Regions from separate parts of the Homo sapiens genome. Here region 1 is linked to region 2. Evidence: fine-mapped expression QTL. Tissue or cell type: whole blood. Region 2 holds a variant in brackets; the other region holds the start of a gene. All regions are shown on one strand. Distances are from middle to middle. Region 1 holds the start of TRIM44 (tripartite motif containing 44). Region 2 overlaps TRIM44 (tripartite motif containing 44).

Region 1 (12,789 bases), 21 kb before region 2:
TTATCAGAAAGGGGCCCCAATCTAGACCCCAAAAGAGGGTTCTTGGATCTCGCCCAAGAAGGAATTCAGGGTGAGTCCGTAATGTGAAAGCAAGTTTATTAAGAAAGTAAAGGAATAAAAGAATGGCTACTCCATAGACAGAGCAGACGGCTGTCGGCTGCCCACTTTTATGGTTATTTCTTGATTATATGCTAAACAAGGGGTGGACTATTCATGCCTACCCTTTTTAGACCATATAGGGTAACTTCCTGACGTTGCCCTGGCATTTATAAACTGTCATGGTGCTGGTGGGAGTGTAGCAGTGAGGATCTCCAGAAGTCACTCTCATTGCCATCTTGGTTTTGGCGGGTTTTGTCCAGCTTCTTTACTGTCATCTGTTTTATCAGCAAGGTCTTTATGACCTGTATCTTGTGCTCACCCTCTATCTCACCCTATGACTTAAAATGCCTAACCATCTAGGAATGTAGCGCAGTAGGTCTCAGCCTCATTTTACCTAGCCCCTATTCAAGATGGAGTTGCTCTGGTTCAAACACCCCTGACATTAGCATTAGATCATACCCTTTTTTCTTCAATCATATTTCTACATGGCTGTTCATACTTCATTGACCCTAAGTATAAAAATAGACAGTTTCCCCCTGTACTTTTGGGTCTTCATTCTGAAGACTCTTGTGTAATGTAAAACTTATATTAAATAAATTTATACATCTTTTCTTCTATTAATCTGCCTTTGTTCAGGTGATTTTATAGCAAACCTTCTGAGGGTGAAGTTTCCCCTCCCTTCCTACATTATGTAGCGATAGACAACTAACACAAATTTTATTAAAAAGAATAGTTTTTCCATAACAAAACCCTAAAATGTTAGAATGGTTTTAGAACTGAGCAGAGGGTAGAAGCTGGAAGGACTTTGAGAACAATGTTAGTGAAAGACTAGAGTCTTTGCTGGATGCGGTGGCTCACACCTGTAATCCCAGCACTTTGGGAGGCAGAGGCGGGCACATCACCTGAGGTCGGGAGTTCGAGACCAGCCTGATCAACATGGAGAGGCCCCATCCCTACTAGAAATACAAAATTAGCCGGGCGTGGTGGCTCATGCCTGTAATCCCAGCTACTCGGGAGGCTGAGGCATGAGTATCACTTGAACCCTGGAGGCAGAGGTTGCGGTGTGCCGAGATCATGCCATTGCACTCCAGCCTGGGCAACAAGAGCGAAAAACACTAGAGCCTTTGTAGGTGAGAACTTAAAGGGAAATGAGGAACATGTTTTTGGAAACTGGAGGAAAAGGGTCCTTGTTATGTAGTGGCAGCAGTTTAGTAACATTGTCACCTGCAGTAATGTGCAAAGTAGAAATTGTGCCTAACCAGCTGAGTGTTCTAGCTAAGGATATTTCATGGTAGACTGTTGAAGGTGCTAACTGATGTTTTCTTGCTGATTATAGCAAAATGTGAAAAGAAAGAGATCATCTAAAGGAAGGACTTAAAAAAAAATCCGGAACTTGCAAGTTTTGAAAATTCCCAGCTTCCCCAGATGGCAAATGATGCTACTGTGAAAAAATGGCTTCCAGGCAAGGAAAAACTCCAGGACATTCCCAGCAAAACATCATCAAATGATGAAGGTAAGAGTGCGGCTATAAAATCCTTTGTTCAGACCTCAAAAGGATCTATAGCAGTGATTCATAGAATCATTCAAACAAACCATAGAGCTTGGAGGAAGTTTATAGTGTTGTGCTTTAGTGGTTTCACTGAGGGATTCTACAGAGTAAAGAAGGGTTTATCTTGAAAAGAGCTGTATGTATAATTTTTGTCCAATGGTATGAGCCCCAATTCGATTTATAGAGGATTCACAAAGTTTTCAAAACAATTCTTTGGCAGAAGCACTGCCAGCATGGACACACAGACAGAGTACAAAATGAAAAGTAGCCTTTGGACCTCCTAAATTCTACTTGCAGTAAGCAAATTGATACAATTACACAGCTGCAAACATGAACTACTTTTAATGGAAAAGGAAAGATGACTCAGAGAGTGGAATCAAGAGCTCAATGGGTGAAATAAAAAGCCATGGGGAGTCATTCCTGAACAAGGAGTAGGTTTGAACCCTAATCAAACAGCTTCCAAAATGTGTCTACCTGGATTTAAGGATTCTATGAGCCAGTGACTTCTCAGGCCTCCTGTCTTTCCTCCTTTTTGAGCAGGACTGTCTGTACCACTAATCTTTTTTATTTTTATTTTAGACAGAGTATTGCTCTGTCACCCAGGCTGGAGTGCAGTGGTGTGATCTCAGCTCACTGCAACCTCCGCCTCCTGGGTTCAAGCAATTCTCCTGCCTCAGCCTCCTGAGTAGCTGGGATTACAGGCATGCACCACCACGCCTGGCTAATTTTTGTATTTTTTTAGTAGAGATGGGGTTTCACCATGTTGGCCAGGCTGGTCTCCAACTCCTGATCTCAGATGACCCGCCCGCCTCGGCCTCCCAAAGTGCTAGGATTATAGGCATGAGCCACTGCGCCCAGCCTGTACCAGTTATCTTAAACCTGTCCCACCATTGCATGTTGGGGTGTGGGAGACATAGGCATTCAAATGAACTATACTTGAGGATCTGCACTTAAAACACTACACCAAAGTGCTTCATCCACACCTGGTCCCAATTTAGATGACAGGACTCCAGACTTTGAACTGATAATATAATGGGTTGAGACTTTTGGGGACCTTGGGAAGAAGTGAGTGTATTTTACATTTGGGAGATACGTGAATCATTGGTGGCCAAAGGGCAGACTGTGACAGCCAACCTCCAAGATGGCCCCAAAGATTCCCATCTCTTGGTTTTCAAGCCCTTGTGCAGTTTCTGCCCACACTGAATAGAGCTAATCTCTAACCAATAAGCTATGTACGAAATGATGGCGTGTGACTTCTGAACTTAGGTTATAAAAGACATTGCATCTTCCATCTTGCCCTCTCTTGGATCACTTGCTTTGTGAGAATTCAACTGCCCTGTCTTGAAGACATTCCAGCAGCCCTATAGAAAGTGGTGAGGCCTTTTGCCAACAGCCATGTGAATGAACCATCTTGGAAGCAAATTCTATGCTTGTAGGTAAGCCTTCAAGTGACGATAGCACAGCCAACATCTTTACCAAAATCTCTTGAAAGACCCTAAGTCAGAACCACTCAGCTAAGTCACTCCCAGAGTCCTTGCTCACAGAAACTATGTAAGATAATAAATGTTTATTGTTTTAAGCTGCTACATTTTGATGTCATTTTCTATGTAGCAATAGGTTAATATAACAAGGGTGCTATTTGTGGACACTCCCAAAGATACTAATTCCTGGGGAATCAGATGGTTCGGATTTCTCTGCAGAGGGGTACAGAGATCTGCCTCATTGAGTCTGCCACACCTTGTCACCAGAAATTTATGGAGTCCCTTTTTAATAGTTTAATCTGGCCAGGTGTGGTGGTTCATACCTGTAATCCCAGAACTTTGAGAGGTCGAGGCTGGTGGATCACTTGAGTCTAGGAGTTCGAGAGCAACCTGGGCAACATGGCAAAACCCCATCTCTACTAAAAATACTAAAGGTAGCCGGGCATGGTGGCACACACCTGTAATCCTAGCTACTTGGGAGGCTGAGGCAGGAGAATCGCTTGAACCCGGGACGCAGAGGTTGCAGTGAGCCAAGATCGTGCCAACGCACTCCAGCCTGGGCAAAAGAGCAAGACTCCATCTTAAAAAAAAAAAGTTTAATCTGTCTGCCTCTAAGACCCTTTCTCCACAGAGTGCTCAAGAAGAATTGTAAAGTGTCAGATACTGAACTGCACAGTATTATATTTTAACTTTCTGTCAGATAACATTAAGAAGAAACAGTAATAACAATAATGATGACATGACTCCCCCTCCCCTCATCAAATACCCTGGATACAACAATGTCCTTTTAAGATATTAAAAAGGCCAGGCCTGTGGCTCACACCTATAATCCCAGCACTTTGGGAGCCTGAGGTGGGAGGATCACTTGAGTCCAGGAGTTCAAGACCAGTCTGGGCAACATAGTGAGACCCCGTCTCTACAAAAAATACCAAAACAAGTAGTGGGGCTTAGTGGCTCACGCCTGTGGTCCTAGCTACTTGGGAGGCACTTGGGAGGACTGCTTGAGCCCAAGAGGCTGAGGCTGCAGTGAACTGTGATTGAACCACTGCACTCCTGCCTGGGCAACAGAGAGAGACCCTGTCACCAAAAAAAAAAATAAATAAAAAAAATAAAAATTATTTTCATTGAATAAAAGACTTTCTAAATGTGAGAACGTTATGTTTGTAAAGGCTAAGTTGTTTCCTTTTAAGCCTGGGGGAGGACAGGAGTAGAAATAACCAAGCAAGGCACACTTCTCATTAGGTATATTAACGTTGATGTTTGAGTTGACATTTGTTGAATTTTTTTTTTCAGAATGGTGCTTCAATTCATGTTTCAAAAGCAGACACAGAAATAATTTCCAGAGAAATGAGCTGGGGGAAAACAGAAATGTGTATGGAATTGGAACAAAATAAACCTGATTTTTTTCAACATTGTATAGAATTGTTCTGAGGTTAAAAAGAAAGGTTTCTAAAAAATAAATATCTAACAAAAGCTGCACAAAGATTAGGCATACATTATCCATGGAGACATTAAAAACTATTAAAAAGGTTTTTTTACCCCACCTCATCCCCTGGTATGTTTGAGGAAAGCATCTGGAAATTCTAACTCAAAATCATCTAAGGGAATCAATGTAAAACAGACACCATTCCATCCCCTTTCATCCTTCTTAATACACCTCAGCCTCTCCCTTGACTAGATAAAAACGTAATTTTCCCTCTCCCAAATACAGTGCAAAACAAAAACTCTTCTGTGAATGGAGAGACATGGATATGGGGTAGAGGTGGAGACTTGCCTACATTACCAGCAGCCAGCCGAAAATGCCCTGTGTGTGTAAAATATGTTCCTTCAAAGGGGCATTGTGAGCACTAAATATAATTTGTGCCAAAAATAATAATGAAAGCTTAGTGAATACTCTACAGTGCAGGCATCGTTACATTTAATCCACAAAACTACCCCATGAGGTAGATATTTACCGTTCTTTTCACTTAACATCTTTTTTAAAAAGCGGAAAACAGAATGATGAATTAACTTGTCCATGGTCATAAAACTGATAGGTAGTGGCACCAGGATTTGGGGACCATCGGGCAGAGGATCTTCCAAAACCGGCTTTTAAAGAGCCACAAAAAGATGTAGCCGGGTTCTTGGCACTACAGTACTGCTTTATAAACAACAGTTCCCTTCTTTTCTCTTAGAGCCCAGTGGGAATCTAGAGGGACACCTTACATAAAGGAAAATGACTGCAACCTGGACCTGTCACTCGACAAATACTGCCTCTCCCCACCTCACTTCACCTGACGTCTCTGCCCAACCGAAGGCAGCTCTCAGAAAACCGCACAGAGGTTACCACCCCAGAAATTCTGAGATCCTAGGAGGTAGCAATGCAAATAGACAAAGCACAGTATTGCTTTGGATCGAAAATATTTGTTTGCTCATCCTAACTCCAATTCCCCTAGCCTAGAACAAACATAGCCCTTCCGCACTCAGGAAATCCCAAGAGGTCAGGTTCAGTCTGGTAAACAACACTGTCCGGGCACCTTGCAGAACACTGGGGACTGTGACGGGCGGCGACAAATTGGCACAAGAGAGACTGAAATGCACAGGGACACCAGCCTAGTGGCCGTGAAAACTCAAGTTGACACTTCCAGGGAGGGAATGGGGGAGGTGGAGCCCAATTCCTGCTTCTGGAGAGAGTAAGAGACTTCCTCCATCCTCCTTCTCCCTCCTCCTCCTCCAAGGCACGCTGAGATTTGGAGCGGAGGAGCTGAGCCCCGCGGGAAAAGCAGAAAAGGGTCATTGCCACTTTAAATGACTCAGGAAGTAAAAGGAGGCCTCCTGACGGGGAAAGGGAAAGTGGAACCGGGGCGGCGCGGGGGCCGGCGGCTGCCGCGATCTCTCCCTGGTAGCGGGAGGCTGAGCGGGCGGCGCGACGCGGGGGCCGACGGGGGCGCCGGGTGGCCGCGCCGGAAGTGCCTTGCGCGGCAGAGGAAGCGCAGGGACAGAGCGGAGCAGGCCGAGCCGGCGGAAAGGGTCTTTGCTGCTGCGCCCGGGCAGGGGCTGCCGCGGCCCCAGGTCCCGCTTCGAGACGCGGCGCGGTCCAGGCGGGAGGCGACTCCCTAGGAAGGGACCCGGGGCGGGAGGAGGAAGTGAGGCCGCGCGGAAGGAAGGCGGCGAGCCCCGGGGCCCCGAGGCCTTGGCCGCGTCACAGCACCCACATGGCCTCTGGAGTGGGCGCGGCCTTCGAGGAACTGCCTCACGACGGCACGTGTGACGAGTGCGAGCCCGACGAGGCTCCGGGGGCCGAGGAAGTGTGCCGAGAATGCGGCTTCTGCTACTGCCGCCGCCATGCCGAGGCGCACAGGCAGAAGTTCCTCAGTCACCATCTGGCCGAATACGTCCACGGCTCCCAGGCCTGGACCCCGCCAGCTGACGGAGAGGGGGCGGGGAAGGAAGAAGCGGAGGTCAAGGTGGAGCAGGAGAGGGAGATAGAAAGCGAGGCAGGGGAAGAGAGTGAGTCGGAGGAAGAGAGCGAGTCAGAGGAAGAGAGCGAGACAGAGGAAGAGAGTGAGGATGAGAGCGATGAGGAGAGTGAAGAAGACAGCGAGGAAGAAATGGAGGATGAGCAAGAAAGCGAGGCCGAAGAAGACAACCAAGAAGAAGGGGAATCCGAGGCGGAGGGAGAAACTGAGGCAGAAAGTGAATTTGACCCAGAAATAGAAATGGAAGCAGAGAGAGTGGCCAAGAGGAAGTGTCCGGACCATGGGCTTGATTTGAGTACCTATTGCCAGGAAGATAGGCAGCTCATCTGTGTCCTGTGTCCAGTCATTGGGGCTCACCAGGGCCACCAACTCTCCACCCTAGACGAAGCCTTTGAAGAATTAAGAGTAAGTATTGGGCCTTCAGAGCATAAACCTAGGGGTCAGGACACCTGGGTTTCAACTCAGGTGGCCTGGCTGTGACCACATTCGCTTTCACTGTGTCCCTAAGAAGCTAGTCTTTCCAACTTTTTGGGAGCAGTTCTTATTCACCGTTTTTGGTTGAACTCTTTTGAGAATCTGATGAAAGTTCTGGACTCTGACCTGAGAAAATACACACAAAATCTAGTATACAATTTCTAGAAAATTGCAAGTTTCTGGTCTGTGGATCCCAGGTAAAGCATTTCTTGGGAGTTTTGACCCCACTTAGGCCAATTTCCACAGCATCACTATTGTTGAAACTGGTGCTTTGTGCTAGGGCTCTTGATAAGGCAATCTTTTTGCCTACTTGAAAACATGGGAAATAGGATTTTGCCACATGAATCCAAGCAAGTGATACGTCTGCATTGAAAAGACTAACAAAATAGTTTTAATAGTAACTTCATATGTGCCCCGAGTTCATTTTAGATTCTTCGTGTTTGAAACTTAGTAGAAAAGGAGGGTAAGAAGATGGAGGCCAAATTGGGGTGGGAGTGGAAGTTCCCATGTCCTCTGTCTGGATCTTTGTCTGTCGTGGACCTTACTGGTCCCCCAGAACAGTGGACACTTCGGAAATATTTGTTGAATGAATGAATTTGCAGACGATGCACCTTTTATTCATATTGTGGATGTTTACTATCATTGAGAGAAACTGCTGGTGTTAATCGGGGAGGGAGGGGGAAATTTTGAGTGGAGTGATCAGTTCATTAAGTAATCTGTATTAGTGAACATTGTCATATTATGATGACTTTTGCTTCCCTGAATAGGGAATAGCTGGCATTGGGATAACAAATACCTTGAGAGTGAAGATCCTCTGTATTAGGTTTTCCCTTTTTTAGTGCCTATTTATAATTGTAAAATGCACATTCAGAAAGTGTGTAAAAACTTACAGTCTAACAAATAATTATAAAACAAGTACTGAGGTAGTCTCCATCCAGATTAAGAAATAGAACATTACTAGCAATATTGAAGCCTTTTCCCCATACCTTTTCCAATTATAACCATCTCTCTTCTGCATAAGTAAGCATAATCTTGACTTCTGTGATCATTTCCTTGCTTACCTTTATGCTTTTACTCCATGTGTATGCATTCCTAAACTTATTTGAACTTGACACTATGGGTGTCATATTTTTATCATGCATTCTTCTGGGTTTTGCTTCATTTTCTCAACATTGTGTTTGTGAGAGTCATCCTATGAGTGACTGTAGTTTATTCACTTTCATTACTATTTCGAATTCCATTTTATGAATATGCCACAAGTTATCTATTCTGTCATAGATGGTCATTTGATTTGTTCCCAGGTTTGGGAGCGTCGGGCTGTTACAAACAATGTCAGTGTAAATATTCTTGGTCATGTCTCGGTGTACATTTAACATACATTTAAGTGGAATATAAACGCAGGAGTGAAATTGCTGTGTCAGAGGCTATGCATATCTTCAGTAATACTACATGTTGCCAACTATTTTCCAGAGTGGTTGTACCAGTTTGAATCACTATGAAGAGTATATGAGAGTTCCTGTTGCTCTGTATCTTCAAAACTTGCTATTACTGTATTTTTCATTTTTGTCAATCTTGTGGCTATGTAATGGTATTTTATTGTGGTTTTAATTTTCATTCCTCTGATTACTAATGACTTTGAGGATCTTTTATACTTCCTCTGTGAAGTACCTAGTCAGTTCTTTTGCCCATTTTTCTATTGAGTTGTCTTTTCTCATTATATGAGTTTTTATATATCTGTTTTTTTTTTTTTTTTTTTTTTTTTTGAGATAGAGTCTTGCTCTGTTGCCCAGGCTGGAGTACAGTGGCTAGATCTCAGCTCACTGGAACCTGCGCCTCCCAGGTTCAAACGATTCTCCTGCCTCAGCCATCTGAGTAGCTGGGATTACAGGCACATGCCACAATGCCTAGCTAATTTTTGTATTTTTTTTTTAGTAGAGATGTTTTTGCCATGTTGACCAGGCTGGTCTTGAACTCCTGACCTCAGGTGATCTGCCTGCCAAAGTGTTGGGATTATAGGTGTTAGCCACTGTGCCCAGCTATATATTTGTTTCTGATTTTTTTTGTTGTTCTTTCTATGTGGGTTGCAAATATCTTCTATGTGGTTTTTCTTTTTAAAGAAGTTGTGCCTTGAATAGAAGCTCTTCATTTTAATGTGGTAAAACTTATCAATACTTTTCCTTATGGTTAGTGCTTTTTGTGTCTTGTTCTACTTAGTATTGATTTTTGTGTAGTAGAAGTAGGGGCGCAATTTCATTTTTTCTCCATACAGATGGCCAATTGCTATTGCTGTATTTATTGAAAAGCCCTTCCTTTGTGCACTGATTTGCTGTCCCACTGTCATATATCAAGTGCCCATAATATGTGTGAATGTGTTTCTTGGTTCTTCTGTTCTCTACTGTTTATCTGTTAGTATATCCCTGTGTGAACAGCATGTTTTCTCAGTTATCCCTTTATAATATGTCTTAATATCTGGTAAAGCAGGTCCTTCCATCTTGTCCTACAAGAGTGTGTTGGCCAGTTTTGGCACTTTACATTTCTTAGAATCATAGTATTAAAAAGCCTGCAGGAGTGTATTTGGATATTAAATTTATAAGCCAATATAGGGAGAATTAATATCATTACAACATGAAGTCTTCTGATTCATTAATTTAGGTCTTTTTTATTGCTTCGCAGTTAAGTTTTATATTTTTTTCCTCAAAGATTTTTCACATCATTGTAAAATTTATTCCTAGATACTTCATAATTTTATAATATTGTAGAAAATATGAGCCAGGCACAGTGGCTCACACCTGTCAGCTATATGGAAGGCTGAGGTGGGAGGATTGCTTCAGTCTAGGAGTTTGAGGCTGCAGTGAGTTATGATCCTGCCATTTCCCTCCAGCCTGGTCGACACGGCAAGACCCTATCTCTAAAATAAAAATAAATGGTTTTAAGTTTTGTTTTCTAATTGAATATAGGAATATGATTAACTTTTATATATTGTTTTTTTGTGATCTATCTGCTGAATTATCTTACATATCCTAATAATTTATCTGTAGATTTATTCTACATACCTGATTGTATTATGTGTGAAGAGAGATACTTTTTGTTTGTTTCTTTTCAATCCTTATATCTGTTATTTGTTTTTTCTTGCCTTACTGCATTGGATAGCACCCCGAGTATTATGTTGAATGGATGTGGTTGGTGGGTATTCTGGCCTTGTTCCTAGTCTAGCAGTAATTGATAACATTGCACAAATAAGTGATATGTTCTATGGTTTTTGAAAATAGATATGTTTTATCAGTTTAAAAAAATTCTAGTCCTGGTTTGCTAAGTTTTTCTGAATTTTGATTGGTTATTTAATATCAAATGCTTTTTTTGCATCTTTTGGGATGATCATGTGATTTTCTCTTTCACTTTTATGATGATGAATTACATTAATTGATTTACTTATTAAAGTTAATTTTTAAAATCAGTGATACATTCATATACCTCAAAAGCCTGTGTCCTTTTCACCTGATTCTTCTACCAGCTGTTGGTAACTACTTGTTTTTTCTTAGAAACAGGATCTTACTCTGTTGATCAGGCTGGAATGCAGTGGTGGGAGCATAGCTCACTGTAATCTCAAATTCCTGGGCTTAAGCAATCCTCCCACCTGAGCATCCTGAGTTGCTAGGACTACAGGTGTGCCACCATGCCTGGCTAACTATTTATTTTTTATTTTGTAGAGATGGGTGTCTTGCTATGTTGCCCAAGTTGGTCTTGAACTCCTAGCCTCAAGCAGTCCTCCCGCCTCAACCTCCTACAGCTGTGGGATTACAGGCTGTTCCTGGCCAATAACCATTTTTATTAGTTTTTTGGTTACCCTTCAGGTGTGTGTTTCTGCAAATATAGGTGTGTGCATATATATGGTCTTACTTTCATCTCTTCGTATTGTTGTATTTTATAATTAAAGCAGAAAGACTAGCATTTCTGGGATATCCTTGATCCAACTTGGTCATAATGAAGTAGCCTTATGTTTTTGGATTTGGCTTATTAATAATTTATGTAGTTTTTTTTCATTTATATTTATGGGAGAAATTGGCCTATCATTGTTCTTTTACTGTTCTTATGGGATTTTGCTATCAAAGTTTGGCTTCATAGTCTGAGGCAGAGTGTAGTGTTTCTTATATATTCTTTCTCTCTTTTAATGGTCTGGAAGTATTTGTGAAAGATTGAAATATTTCTTCCTATATTGATTGGTAGAACTGACCATGGAAGCCATCTATTCCTGGAGAGAGTGAAGGGGGAAGGGAGAGTTGGTTTATTGTTGGTGCTTTCTTTTGTTTTGTTTTTTGGTTTTACATTTTTTAACTGATCACCAACATTTTATTATTTTTAGTTTCAAACTTTTAAGTTCTGGGGTACATGTGCAGGATGTGCAGGTTTGTTACATAGGTAAACATGTGCCATGCTGGTTTGCTGCACAGATCATCCCATCACTTAGGTATTAAGCCCAGCATCCATTAGCTATTCTTTCTGATGCTCTCCTTCCTCCCACCCCCTATCCACTGACAGGCTCCAGTGTATGTTGTTCCCCACAATGTGTTCATATGTTCTATCATTCAGCTCCCACTTGTAAGTGAGAAGATGCAGCATTTGGTTTTCTGTTCCTGCATTAGTTTGCTGAGGATAATGGCTTCTGGCTCCATCCATGTCCCTGCAAAGGACATGATCGGATTCCTTTTTATGGCTGCATAGTATTCCATGGTATATGTACCACATTTTCTTTATCCAGTCTATCACTGATGGGCATTTAAATTGATTCAGTGTCTTAGCTATTGTGAATAGCACTGCAGTGAACATACACGTGCGTGTATCTGTGTAATAAAATAATCTATTTTCCTTTGGGTGTATACCCAGTAATGGGATTGCTAGGTATTATTGTTTTACATAGTATTTTTGACTATGGACTCAATTTCTTTAATAGTCATAGGTCTGTCTAGGTTGTCTATTTTTTCTTAGGTCAGTTTTGATAAGTTACATTTTCTCAGACGTTTGTCCATTTTATGTAAATTTTCAAATGTGCTAGTATAAATTTGTGAATCATAATTCTTTTTTTTTCATTCTGTAGCTGTCTTAGCTATTCCTTTAAGAACTGTAGGCATATTGATTGATAATCTGCCTCTGATAATTCTAGTATGTGAAGACTTTGTGGACCTCTTTTTGCTGCTGTTTTTAGTTTTTCATGTTTCATGTTTTTATTTCTTTTTGTGCTGGGTTCTGTGTAGCTGTGTAGCTTCTCATTGCCTTTTAAAAACTGCTTATGGGACTTTTCCAAATCTTGCATGAAGCTGCATACTTCAAGAGAGGATTCGAGTTTGATTCTGCTAAGGCCTGAGAGTACAACTTGTTTAGAATCCCCTTCTACTAAATTAATTTCTTGAGGTTTCTTGGACCAAACTTTCAGGAGGACCTTGCCCACATCTTAGAGATTTTCTTTCATTTTTTCCCCCTCTCTGTTTTGTTAACCTCTCTACCTTCCCCTTTGGATGTTTGGATAGTAACAAGTTTAGTTTGCTTTTACTCTGAGATTTTTAGCAGGGTGAAAAGGTGAGAGGGTCCCAAGTCTATATGGAAAGGATCCCCTTTATTTATTTATTTATTTATTTATTTATTTATTTAGAGACGAAGTTTCACTCTTGTCACCCAGGCTGGAGTGCAATGGCTCCATCTTGGCTCACTGCAACCTCCACCTCCCAGATTCAAG
Region 2 (12,789 bases):
TTTTATATATTATTCGAAGTTAGTGGCATTTCTTTTCTTTTGGTCTATTTATTCATTCAACAAATATTTATTGAAGGCTTAAAATTTGCCAGGTGGAGTATTTTGGCCAGTAGGGAACCAACAAGAAGCAACTCTAAGTCATGGAATTTATAATCTTTGAGCAAAACAGACAGTAAGGAAGTTAAATGATAAGTGATATTTTAAATAATGATAAGTACTGTGAATAAACAAACTGGGGAAGGAGATAGGGAGTGACTGGGATGTGGGAATGAGAGGGAAGCTTTTTAAGGATCTGAGGACTTTTTGAACTAGTGACCTGGGTGTAGTTAGAGCCAGTGATGAGAAGCTCTAGGGACATAGTGGTTCAACTGAAGGGAACAGCAAGTGTAAAAGCCCTGAGATAGAACAAGTTTACTAAGGGGATAAAATGAATGGCTGGAGTATAATCAGTAGTGGTGGGGTAGGGGTTGACTAGTAGATGAGGTCAGATTACCAAGTAGGCTGTGGTAAGGATTTTGGGTTTTATTCTAAGTAGTCATAGACTGTTTAAGCAAGGGAGTAAATGATCTGGTTTATATTCTTAAAACTTCTCTTTGGTTCCTATGTGGAGAATGGGCTGTTGGGTAGCAAGAGTGGGAGCGGTATTGCTGCTTGTACCAGGTTGGGAATAGTGGACAATACGATAGTGAAGAATACATGCCAACTGGATATGGCATATATTTTAGAGTTCGGCCTAAAAAGACTTGCTGATGGATTTTTTTTCAGACCCAAGAATGACTTTGAGTCTGACAACTAAAAGTGATGGCCTAGTGTAGGAGTGGGTTTGGAGTTAGAAAATGAAGTAATATAAAGGAGGTGGTAAAAATTTTCGTACATGGGATGGTGATACTAAAATTTAATTTCATTTCCTTTTGACAAAACTTTGCTTTCTGATTTGATTCCTTAGGAGGACTTCCTCTCCCCTCCCTCTCCCCTCTCCCCGCTCCCTCCCCTCCCCATTCTCTTAGACAGTGTCTCACTCTGTTGCTCAGGATAGATGGCAGTTGATCTCCGCCCACTGCAACCTCCACCTCCTGGGTTCAGGTGATTCTCATGTCTCAGCTACCCAGGTAGCTGGGAATACAGGCCATGCCCGGCTTATTTTTGTATTTTTAGTAGAGATAGGGTTTCTCCATCTTGGCCAGGCTGGTCTCAAACTCCTGGCCTCAAATGATCCACCCACTTTGGCCTCCCAAAGTGCTGGGATTACAGGTATGAGTCACTGCGCCTGACCAAGGAGGACTTCTGTATTCCATCTTCTGATCCTTTTCCACAATTTCTCCCAGACAAGACCTTCTGGTAAAATGACTAAGTTGGATTGATTTTTTTTTTTTTTTTAGAAGAATGATATCAACACAAGCCAATGGAATAGGGAGGAAAACACCCCAATACAGATAGCTAGTATTCTTTCTGAATTCAACATCTTCTGATTGATTCTTTGTAATAATAGAATTCAATATTCAGGAGCCAGTTTAGGATATTTATGTGGCTTATATTTACATTTTTGCTGACACGTGACTTTTCTTTTGGGTGCCTAGCTGGTTATTGGCATTAGACTAGACTGACTTCCATGAAAGTGCAGAGACCACTTGTCAAGGAATTCTTCTTCCTATTCTGATGCCACTGCTACCTGCCATATTCTACTTTTGCTTCTACCCTTTACCCATTTTTAAGGCATGTTTCCATTAGCATGAAATGTTATTTCTGTGTTTTGGGGTGGATGGATCTGAATGTATCAGGTAATATGTACTCCTTTGAAGAAAGGCACCCCAATTTTCATGGTGTTCAAACACAAGGAACATTAGAGGTAGAAAACATTTAGAATTGCTTCCAGGGATAGCAACTTCAGATATCTACCAGAAAGGTAATGTAAAGAAGAGAAGCAAGCCAAGGTAACTGGCAAACTTGAGAGAGGTTGCTTTGCCTAAAGTGAGTAGTTGCTACTCAGCTTCAGCCAATTTCTGCTATATGGGAATGGGAGCCCATTACAGTCATACCCTTTGGATTTACAAAAGAAGCTAGAAATCTTTATTTTTATGTCATATGTCCTCATTTTTAAATGCTAGCAACTAACTTAAAACTCTTAGTGGATGTGTGGGACAACACTCTAAAAGCCAAAGAAAATAGTTCTGTAGGCCTCAGGCTGTGGATATATAGCTTTTGATCTGGTCCATCTTCCTCATTTACAGATGGAAAAACAGAAACCCAGGGATGTAAAATGACTTTTCCAAGCTCACACAAGCAGTTGCTGGCAGTGCTAGTAGTAAAACCTAGGTCTCCTTTCTCTTTGTGCAATGCTCTTTACATTTGGAATGTTAATTGTTTTTGAGGATGTGAGAAAAGCTAATGTCATGTACAGCCCAAATTTTATATCGTTTTGAGGATTTCAGACCCCCTGAAATCCATACATGAATATCAAGTAAAGAACCTTCTCTTGAATCTGCTGGTCCATATGTTTGCATTGTCAAAGGAAAAGGCCCCAGTATTTACATTTAGGCAAATTCATGGGAAGAAGCACTGTAAGCAGGAGACCTTGGCCCTCTTGGTCAACTTCTGCTTCTCTCCCTGCCTTACTGCCTGCCTTTTTTTGTTTGTTTGTTTTTTAGTATGCTAAATCTTAATTATGCAATTAATAGGAATATATTTAACTCTAAAATCCTTCTATCCTAAGTACCAGTCCCAGCAATAATTGCTTTTCTAATATTCTACATACCTATGTCACTCATAGAAAGTAATAATTTTTTAAAAAACTGTTACATGTACCATTTTGCAAGGTTTTGTTTTTTTTTTTAAATTCAACAATATGTCATGCATTGTATCCAGGTACATACAACCTACCTCATTCTTTTTATTTGCTATGTCGTATTCCACAGTGTGTTAATTCCACAGTTTATTTAGCCACCCAATATTTATGAATCCTTGGGGTGTTTACAGATTTTTAGTATTACAAACAGTGCTGCAATAAATACTTTTGTACATGCATCCTTGACACAGGTGCTAGTCTTCCTCAAGAGGAAAGGAGAAGTGGATTGGTAGGCATGTGATTTCAGAGTGGCAGTTATTTTATATATCCATCAACAACATATGGAAGTCCCCAATTTCCCCAGGGCCTAACACTTGCTGTTATGAGATTAAAATTTATTTCAGGCTGATGGGTAAGAAATTATATTTTAATCATGAGTGAGTCTGAGCATCTTTTGCATGTTTTGATGTGTTTGCATTTCACATTTCTATTTTTTTTAAGACAGGGTCTCGTTTGTTCATTTTTTTTTGGAGATTTCTGTTGGGTTTATTTGGCCTTTTCTTACTGATGTATAGAAATCCCTTATGTGTTTTTTCTGTATTCTTGATACCATGTATATGTTATAAATCTTTTTCATTTAGATCTTTCTGATCTTGGTTTTGTCACTGACCAGCTCTGTGATTTTGGGGACATTGTTTGACATCCACAATGCCATTTTTGTCCATTGTGAAGGAGAATACACTACCTTTTAGTTATTGTATTACTGTGAAATGCCAGTGAAAGAGTATAAGCGCTCTGAGCTTTGGGTTCATTTGATTTTCACCAGCCATTTTTTTCAGCTGTAAAGTGAGAATACACTGCTTTTCAGTGAGATGCCAATGAAAGAGCATATGAAAGTGCTTTGGAGACTAAAGAATACCTTCACATGTACAGCATTTTGTCCTTTGGTTTTATTATGACTCATCCCTAGGAGGTGGCTTCTGTGAAGCATCCTATGCTTCTACAGATTAATCAAATTCTGAGTGGTGGGTGTCACAATGTAGCACTTATCTCTTTTTATTCTACACCTTCTTAGGGGAGGAACAAGGTACATAAACAAGATATGCTCACATTGAACTCCTGTGTTCTTGGAATGCATTGGGTGGGATGGAGGTGGAGAAGTACAGATAGCAGGGGAATCCTACTACTTTGCTAGTCATGTTATGTGCCCCAAGGATTGACAATCATTTCTAAAAATGGAACCAAATGTCTACAAGGTTAGAATTAGGCTGTCTTTTCTTACTATCCTGGTTCACTTCTCAATTAGAACTCAGGTTTCAGAGGCAGCTGTTCTGTTCCACTATCTTTTCTGTTCACTGGTTCCCTAACTATGGAACAAATGAGGATATAATCTCCTGTCTGGCTATCTTTTGACTAATGGCTGTCCTCAGCAAACAAATAATTAACCAAAACATGGTACTATTCTATGGTTTGGGGATACTCAGACTCAGATACCACCACCCTTAGACCCAAACAACCCCATGCCCCTGACCTATGTCCCATACTTTTTTTTTTTTTTTTTTTTTTTTGAAATGCAGTCTCGCTCTGTCACCCAGGCTGGAGTGCAGTGGAGTGATCTTGGCTCACTGTAGCCTCTGCCTCCCAGGTTCAGGCGATTCTCCTGCCTCAGCCTCCCGAGTAGCTGGGCTATGTCCCATGCTTTTGAAGACCCCTCCTGTAGCCATGCCTGTCCCGTTCCGTACCACTCTTCAAGTACCTAGCTACCCAAGAATTACCTGGTAAAATGTCCTGAGCTTGCTTCCAGGGCCTGCAGAGCCTCTCCTTGAGTCCGTCTGCCTGAAGATGGACCAGTTTCTGATACATGTATCCCTAGGTCCCACATGTGTATCATGGGTGACCAAGAGGGGTATTCTCAGCTTGGACCTGCTAGCTTGAACACCTGTGCACAAGGCCCCTTGGGGTGCAGGAAGGGACTGGAATGTGGGGAAAGTGGTGGGAGTGGATTGGGGCCAGAGTCCTCCATTTGGACTCTTGCCCCAGCTCTGCAGCTGTCAGGGTCAGGTCTGCCCCGAGGAGCCTCTGCCTTCTGACCAACTGCTTATTTTATAGATTTTTAAAAAAGCCTTTGGGAAAGGTTTTCTTCACCACTGATTTAGAGACTGAGTATAGCAGGCTCATCATAGAGCCCAGTTAATCTTGGTGAATAATTCACAGAGAGTGGGGTGGGGAGGTGGAACAGGTGAGTTTCCTGAAGGGAGGCTCTCTTAAGTTGCCTCTCCTCTGTCTCTTCCCTGGTTAGGCGATGCTGCTGATGCTTTGTGAAAAGGAGGAAGGATTCTGCTGACACACTGAATTTTTATGAAAGAAGGCTAAGGGTTCCCTTATTCATCCACACGAGGCACATCTGCTTGCAGACAGGCTGTCTGCTTCTTAGGGATTCCTTCGTTGTCGTTTTATTCTTTTCTGAAGGTTTTAAGACACAGTTTGGTGCATTCCTTTCTGTTCTCTAGAGCCAGGGGGAAAGTCATAATATATCAGAGCTCTTGCCGAAGAGCTTAAAATGGGCGCTGGCAGCTGGGATGTGGGGGAAGAGAGCTTTCCAGGGACAAGTGACCTGCTTGTTCAGCCAATGAGAAGCAGGTTAGAGGAATGATATCACCAGACAGGCTTTATTGTCTGATCATCTCGTAAAAGCATGATTGTTTCTGGCAACTTAACCCTTTTTTAGGCACTTCAGGTCTCACCTGCTTCCTGGTATATGACCTCTAAGTTCCTTTTGTCAACTGTCTGCTATGAGACCACAGAGATTAAAGACTAAAATTAGTGGAGGATATAGGGGAGTTGTAAACCATCATTTTAAAAAATAGAACTTATTAAAATTTAGAACCTTTGCTAACATGGAAATGTGATTTAAGCTGTGTTTGGAGAACACATCTAAAGTAGATATTGGTTGTAGTCATGTTGTGTCTGATTTTTACTGTGTAGACTTGAGAGGCAAGAGAGGTCAGAGGGGGGAAAATTGACCCTTTAGTATATTTTAATTTATATAGTGGAATCTTATTAGGTATTTCCTATTTTGGAGGAATTGAAATTAGTTCTGTAAATTTGGAAGATATGTTATCACAGATCCAGAGGCCAATTTTGAGTAAGAGATATTTGCAGTATCTGTTTATTCTTGTACTTCTTTGTTGTCCCTACCCCATAGAAATGACAGTGAGTTTACCTCTTTTTGCTTCCTTTCCCTCATTGGTGAAATGAATGTTCCTACCTATCTGATAGAGTTGTTGAGATAAGAAAATAAATGAATTCCTGTGATTTTAGATTGTCCTATATATAATATAATGTATTATTATTATGGCATTCATGTCTTAAGGTTATATGTTCATTCATTGATTTGTTCAGACTTTTTACAACATCTAGATGCTGGGCATAAGAGATACAGGGATACAAAAAAATACAGTTCTTACCCTTAAGGAACTGAAAATATCACGAGGGAGACAGATAGTAATAAAACTGTTTCATACTT[C/A]CTTTTTTATTTACCATGTGCCAGGCTCTGTTCTGAGTACCTTGACATACATTAACTAATTTAATCTTACTGCAGTCCTATGAAATAGATAGTTATTGGCTCTATTTTACAGATAAAGAAATTGAGACAGAGAGAGGGTAAGTAACTTGCCTAAGGTCACACAGCTAGTGTGTGACTAATGGCACTAGGGCTCTAGTCTGTGCTCTAAATCTGTACTGACCAATATAGTAGTCACTAGTCACATGTGGCTTTGGAGCACTTGTAATGTGGCTGGTTTAAATTGATTGGGCTGTAATTGTGAAATACTAGATTTCAAAGACCTAGCATAAAAAAAAATCTCATGTTGAAATTGCATGTTGTAATGATATTTTGAATATACTGAGTTAAGTAAAATACATCAAAATCAATTTTACTTTTTAATTGTGGCAGTTATAAAATTATATACATACGCTTGCATTTGGGACTCACATTAGTCTTTTATTGTACTGTGCTATTCTAAATCATTATACTGTAATAATAGTAATAGCATATGAAATTTTTGAGCACTCACTGTGTGCCACATACTGTGCTAATATCTTTTAAAACACTTTCAGTTAGGCCCCAAAATAGCCCAGTTTATTATCACTATTTTATAGAAGGGGGAGAAGGTTTTGAGACATTTAGTAATTTGCCTGAAATTAATCAACTAGTTAATGGCAAATCCAAAATTGGAACTGTATATGTCTGACTCAAAAACCTGTGAGTTTTATGGGTTTTTTTGGTGTTGAACTCCTGGCCTCAAGCAATGCTCCTGCCTCAGCCTCCTGAGTAGCTGAAATTACAGGTGCAAGCTACCACACCCAGTTAAAAAACCTGTGTTCTTAATCAGCACACTACAGTTCCATTCATAATTAAATTTCAGACTATTTTCTTTGTTTTAATTTTTATAAGTATATTTAATATTGCATACTTCTATATCTGATGCATAAAGGTTCAAAATAAAAATTACCAGTCTGTAAAATAGACATCTTGTATGGAACTGTCTTTTGTAGAGCTTCAGTGAACACCAGCACAGTTGAGCCTGAGATGAAGCAGTGAGTCAGCCTATACAAATTGTATTTAATTTTCATTCCATATAGTTGTGCCAGTCACTGGGCAATTTATGTCCTGACACTCTTTGTCCATAGAGAAGGGAAAGAGGGGCAATGCACCTCTCCTTTGTTGTTTAGCTCTCTTGGCTGTTAAGAAAAAATTGCTTTCTATTTCATTGTCTTCCAAAATGCTGTTTGTGTTTGAGAGAGCAACAAAATGCTGTCTAGTGACCCCTCACTTTTCTTTCTTCTAGAGCAAAGACTCAGGTGGACTGAAGGCCGCTATGATCGAATTGGTGGAAAGGTTGAAGTTCAAGAGCTCAGACCCTAAAGTAAGTATTGTTTGGAATTGATTGGGTGTTGGTACCCCAAGCATTTCATTCTCCTTGAGCTAAAATTGTGAGGTGTTGATGATCATCTCTCTGAATATTGCATTAAGATTTAATTAAGCCTGCCCATCAGAAACAGTGTCCTGATATGCCTAGAGATAAGTCATCTATTTTTCTCCTTCTCTATTTTATGACTTACAACACATAATCATTCATTGTTTTCCCTGAACTGCAGACAGGTGCATTTTTAATCCTCCTTTACCAGGGGTCTTTGAATCTTTGGTCCTCTGTGTCCATTAGATGCAGCCAAAGGCGTCTGAGAGAAATACAGATCATCTTTTTTTTTTTGAGACAGAGTCTCGCTCTGTTGCCCAGGCTGGAGTGCAGTGGCGCAATCTTGGCTCACTACAGCCTCCGCCTGCCGGGTCCAAGCCATTCTCCTGCCTCAGCCTCCTGAGTAGCTGGGATTACAGGCCTGCGCCACCATGCCCTGCTAATTTTTGTATTTTTAGTAGAGACGGGGTTTCACCATGTTGGTCAGGCTGGTCTCGAACTCCTGACCTCGTGATCCGCCCTCCTCGTCCTCCCAAAGTGCTGGGACTACAGGTGTGAGCCACCGCACCAGCTGAGAAATACAGATCATCTTAATGCCAGGGACTGGCATGGGATCCAGACTCATCTAGTTGGTGTTCAGCACTAGCGTCTTATCTCTCCACTGCTTCCAGGAGCCAGCTGCCACTCAGAATACTTTTTTCCTCATGACCTGAAGTCTGGTTTGGAAACTGGTTTAAGTGTCCCGGCTTTTTTTTTTTATTTCAATATGTTAGGGTCTAGAGGATTGATATTCTGGGAGACACCATAACGGGGTGGAGGTAAACGGAACTGAACAGACTTCCTTCTCCTTCCTACCCAGACACTTACTGTGGCACTACCTGGTATTGGGGCCAGCTGGCTTTGCCTTAGAATCAAAGTTTCTCACAATTAAATAGGGAAAGGCGCATGATTTTATTTTACTGTAGGTTCTTTTTGTTTTTGTTTTTGTTTTTTTTTTTTTTAAGAGGAATGGGACTAGCATTTCTTGAGTATCTACTGAGAGTCAGGCACTTTGCTAGGACTCTTACATGATTGTACTAAAATATACATACAAAATTTTAACCATTTTTGAGTGTACAGTTCAATGGCATTAAGTACATTCACTTTGGTTTTTTGTTTGTTTGTTTGTTTTTGTTTTTTGTTTTTTTGAGACGGAATCTCGCTCTGATGCCCAGGTTGGAGTGCAGTGGCATGATCTCGGCTCAGTGCAACCTCTCCCTCCCAGGTTCAAGTGATTCTCCTGCCTCAGCCGCCTGAGTGGCTGAGACTACAGGCACATGCCACCACACCCAGCTAACTTTTTGTGTTTTTACTAGCGACAGAGTTTCACCATGTTGGCCAGGCTGGTTTCGAACTCCTGACCTCAAGTGATCTGCCCGCCTCAGTCTCCCAAAGTGCTGGGATTATGGGCGTGAGCCACCACACCTGGCCACACTTTGTTGTGCAGCCATCATCACTGTCCATCTCTAGAGCTTTTTTACTATCCCAAACTGAAATTCGGTACCCATTAAATGCTAACTTCTCATTCCTGCTCTCCCCTTAAATACTTTTAATTATTTAACAACACTGTAAAGTAGCATTTTCTTCCTACTTTATTGATAAGAACACTGAGGTTTAGAAAGGTAGAATCATCTGCCCAAATCTAATGTAATATAGATGTGGAATTCAAACTCTGACTCCAGTGCCTATACTCTTTATCTTATGTCATGCAAACCAAGCACTGGATTTTATCTCCTTTCTGCCACATGATCACATTGTGCTGCAGTTTTCTAAATTGAAACACAATATGTGGCAGAGCCATAGACTGGTGGGCTCTTCAAAAGGTGGCTGCAGCCACAAGAATAAATTTCTCTTCATATGGCAATGAAAATATCGGGGACATTGGTAAGATCTCTTGTCTTCTGGTGTAGTCAGGGTTCCAGAAGTAGAGAGTTAGGTTGGTAGATAGAAAAAATTAGAGTAACCTTTATCAACTTTCCTAGCTCAAAGTAGGAGGACCCCTGATAAAAGTTTTTCCTTTAGCTAGGATGAACCACTTATTAAAAGTTACTGAAAGCTTTTCTTACCAAGTTTCTCTGGTTTCTGGAGCAACTCCTGTTCTGCAGGAGACAACCATATTCTGATTCCGCCAAACTTATAATTAGCAGTGCAGTGAAGAGGGAGCGGATGTGTACAAATCACACTGAGTGTTCTCTGTGTATGACTATAATACAGGTAAAGTGCTTTGGGATCCTTTATGAATGCATGTAGTGCTTCTGATGGAAAGCTTGCCAGAAAGTGAAAGGTTTGAGCGGTTGCATGAGAGGAATCCCTGGAAGTGTCAGGGTTTTCTCTTGATGCATCATAAGGTAAAGGATATTTGTAAGGACCCGACTTGATCTTGGGTGTGTGTGTATACCTGCACCTCTTTTTTACGTTCTTTTTATTTTGCCCTGGATCATTTACTACCAACCTATTTTATTTTCAAGCCCCTTTTTAGTCTACCACAACCATATGCTGTATATACTTGGAGCCAGCTTGAAGAAGGGTGAACGTAATTGCAGAATGACTGCCAGGTCAGGAATGGGGGTAAAAAACAGGCCACTTAAATATATAATTTCTGCACAAAGAAGATTTTCCTAGAAATAAATTGGCATCTTCCAAGACAACCCTTAAGTTTTTGTCTGTTCTGTTTTCCCACAGAGCCCCACCATCCCCTTTTTGAGTTGGCCTATTTAAGAAGGGCAGAAATCTCTTAGGCTTTGTGACCTGTCATTTCCTGGGCACAGAGGCTTTACATAGAAGCACTGATTGAGTCATGGAGGACTGAGCACTATCTCTGCCTCACTTCCTCTAGAATTCCCTAAAGCATCACAAAGCTTGATTAGTCCAGACACTGAAGCCTATTGGGGAATGAGTTAATTTTTACCTCTTGAGTTTTGCTAGAGAGCAGTAGAAGATGTCTAAATTAATCATTTTTTTAAAATTATAAAATAATACATACTTATAGATTTAAAAATACAGATATTCATAAAGAAAAAGTAAAATCTCCCCTAAGTTAGCCACTGTTAACAGTTTAGTATGTAACCTTCTAGACATTTTTCTATGTAGTACCTTTTCAAAATTCTTTTACAAAATTATACCCATGGTTTTACAATTGCTTTTTCCTTTATGTGGAATATCTTAGATATTCTTCTGTGTCAAAAATATAGACTTGATTCTGTTTAATGAGATGCCTCATTTTATTCAAAACATTTGTCAGACATCTTCTTTTCTTCCAGACCCAGAGGTTCTTAAACTTCAGTGTACATGAAAATCACCCAGAAGACGTATTAAAATATAGAGTGCTGTGCCCACCTCCAGAGTTTTTTATTCAATTGGCCTGGGGTGGCTAGACAATGTTCATTTCTATGAAATTATCAGGTGATGCTGATGTTGCTGTTTCAAGTACCACACTTTGAGAACCTCTGTGCTGTACCTTAGCTGTTTTCCTCTATGTTTGCTAATGATTTTTTTTCACTTCTTTGAACAAGTAGAAGAGCCCCTAGAAATAAGTCCAGGTGATTTCAACTTTGGAAAAAAGGTAGATAAAAATCTAGGCTTATGAAACAAGTTGAGCAGAGGTAGGAAAGGAGTAGGGAGGGGAAAAAGAGGTGGGTTAGGAAGTCAGCTTAGGCTAAAAGGACGGGACTGCTTTACACTGTCACTTCCAACAGAGAATTAGCAAAGCCAAAAAGAGGGAAAGGGATCCTGGTCGGGATTTAGGAGGATGATCAAAGCTCCCTGCCATGGTTGAGGTGTAGGCTGAGTTCTAAAACCAGAGGAAAATCAGGAACAACCAGCCATTATGGGTGAGCCTTAGGAGAGGAATCAGAGCCAGTGATGGTTAAGAAATAGGGTACAAGACCGAATGAAGTTTTGTGCATGGATGTTGCTGTGGTGAGCCCTGTTTTAAAGGGTACATACCTCTGGGCATCTAGAACCCTCTATATCGTGGAAGAAGATTACTTTTAATAACAAACAATCTTTAGTTTGTCAAAACGATTAGTAGGAAATGGTCTTTTACATAATACGCTGTCCTAATGTGTTTGACTTGGTTTAGTTTGCAAACTTTTTTTTCTCCAGCCAAACTTTTCTGAAACACCTATTGCACAAGCAGGATTCTTATCTGTAGATTGAGTACATTTATGGTAGGCTTTAGGGAAATTTTAAAATGTAATCAGTCAGGGGTATGTGTGTATATGTGTGTCTGTACTTGGATTTTTAAGAAATTTAGAGCTTTTTTATTTCTTTATCTTCACAGCTTTCCTTTGTAGTGACTATGCAGTTATCTTTCACAGTTTACTCAGAGGTAACCTAGGCTTGGAAAACACGTTGATTCCCTTTCCTCCCTTCCCCCTGCCCAGTCCTCAGAAAGCATTGAACCAAAAGTACAACATGCTAAGCTCAATCAAACTAACCTCTTATTATGTAGTTAATAACAGCCACTTTCTCTCTATTATGTATTGATTGCTTTTCTTTCCCTCTGATATGCACTGTTCATTGTTTCCTGTAACTGGTGTGCTTGAAGCAAACAGTTAGCACAGTTGTGTGTCTTGAATTCATACTAATCTTATATTCTCAAAAAGAAGCATCTTAAAACTTGAGCCAAGTGGCTCACATTGTTCTGTGTGACTGGAGTGGGATTAAACATGGGATCTGATCATACCCAAGGCTTCCTGAAACAGCAGTTTTTTTTTCCTTTTGTTTCCTCTAGCCTCTAGAGGTATTCTTACTGAAGTGTGAAACCAAAAAATTATCTAGCAGCATGAAATTAGTTAAATAAACCCAAGAATGGTTTTCTTTTTTTATTTCAGCATTTATGTAGCATTTTATAATTGCAAAAGAACTCTGCAATCATTTGTCATAGCTGATATCATTGGCATGGAACACAGCCTAGTCCTTCACTCTTCTGTGATAATCAGATTCTTGTCAAAAAATACAAATTTTAAATGTACAGGTAGTGATGAA

Evidence for each region. PIP is the estimated chance that this variant, and not a neighbour inherited with it, causes the effect.
Region 1: it holds the start of TRIM44, and the variant in region 2 is fine-mapped to the expression of TRIM44 in whole blood (INTERVAL, PIP above 0.99).

Annotation. Positions count from the first base shown.
Region 1 is chr11:35,656,789-35,669,577 of GRCh38, forward strand. It overlaps TRIM44 (tripartite motif containing 44), which reads left to right and starts at 5,987. Exons shown (of 5, transcript NM_017583.6): 1 at 5,987-6,992. The coding sequence starts at 6,324. RefSeq lists enhancers at 5,644-5,963, 6,175-6,675 and a silencer at 6,004-6,383.
Region 2 is chr11:35,677,627-35,690,415 of GRCh38, forward strand. It overlaps TRIM44 (tripartite motif containing 44), which reads left to right. Exons shown (of 5, transcript NM_017583.6): 2 at 7,633-7,710. Among named protein-coding and RNA genes, the nearest start is that of TRIM44, 21 kb to the left of the region's middle. RefSeq lists an enhancer at 12,706-12,789. The variant C/A (reference allele first, on the strand shown) is at 6,309.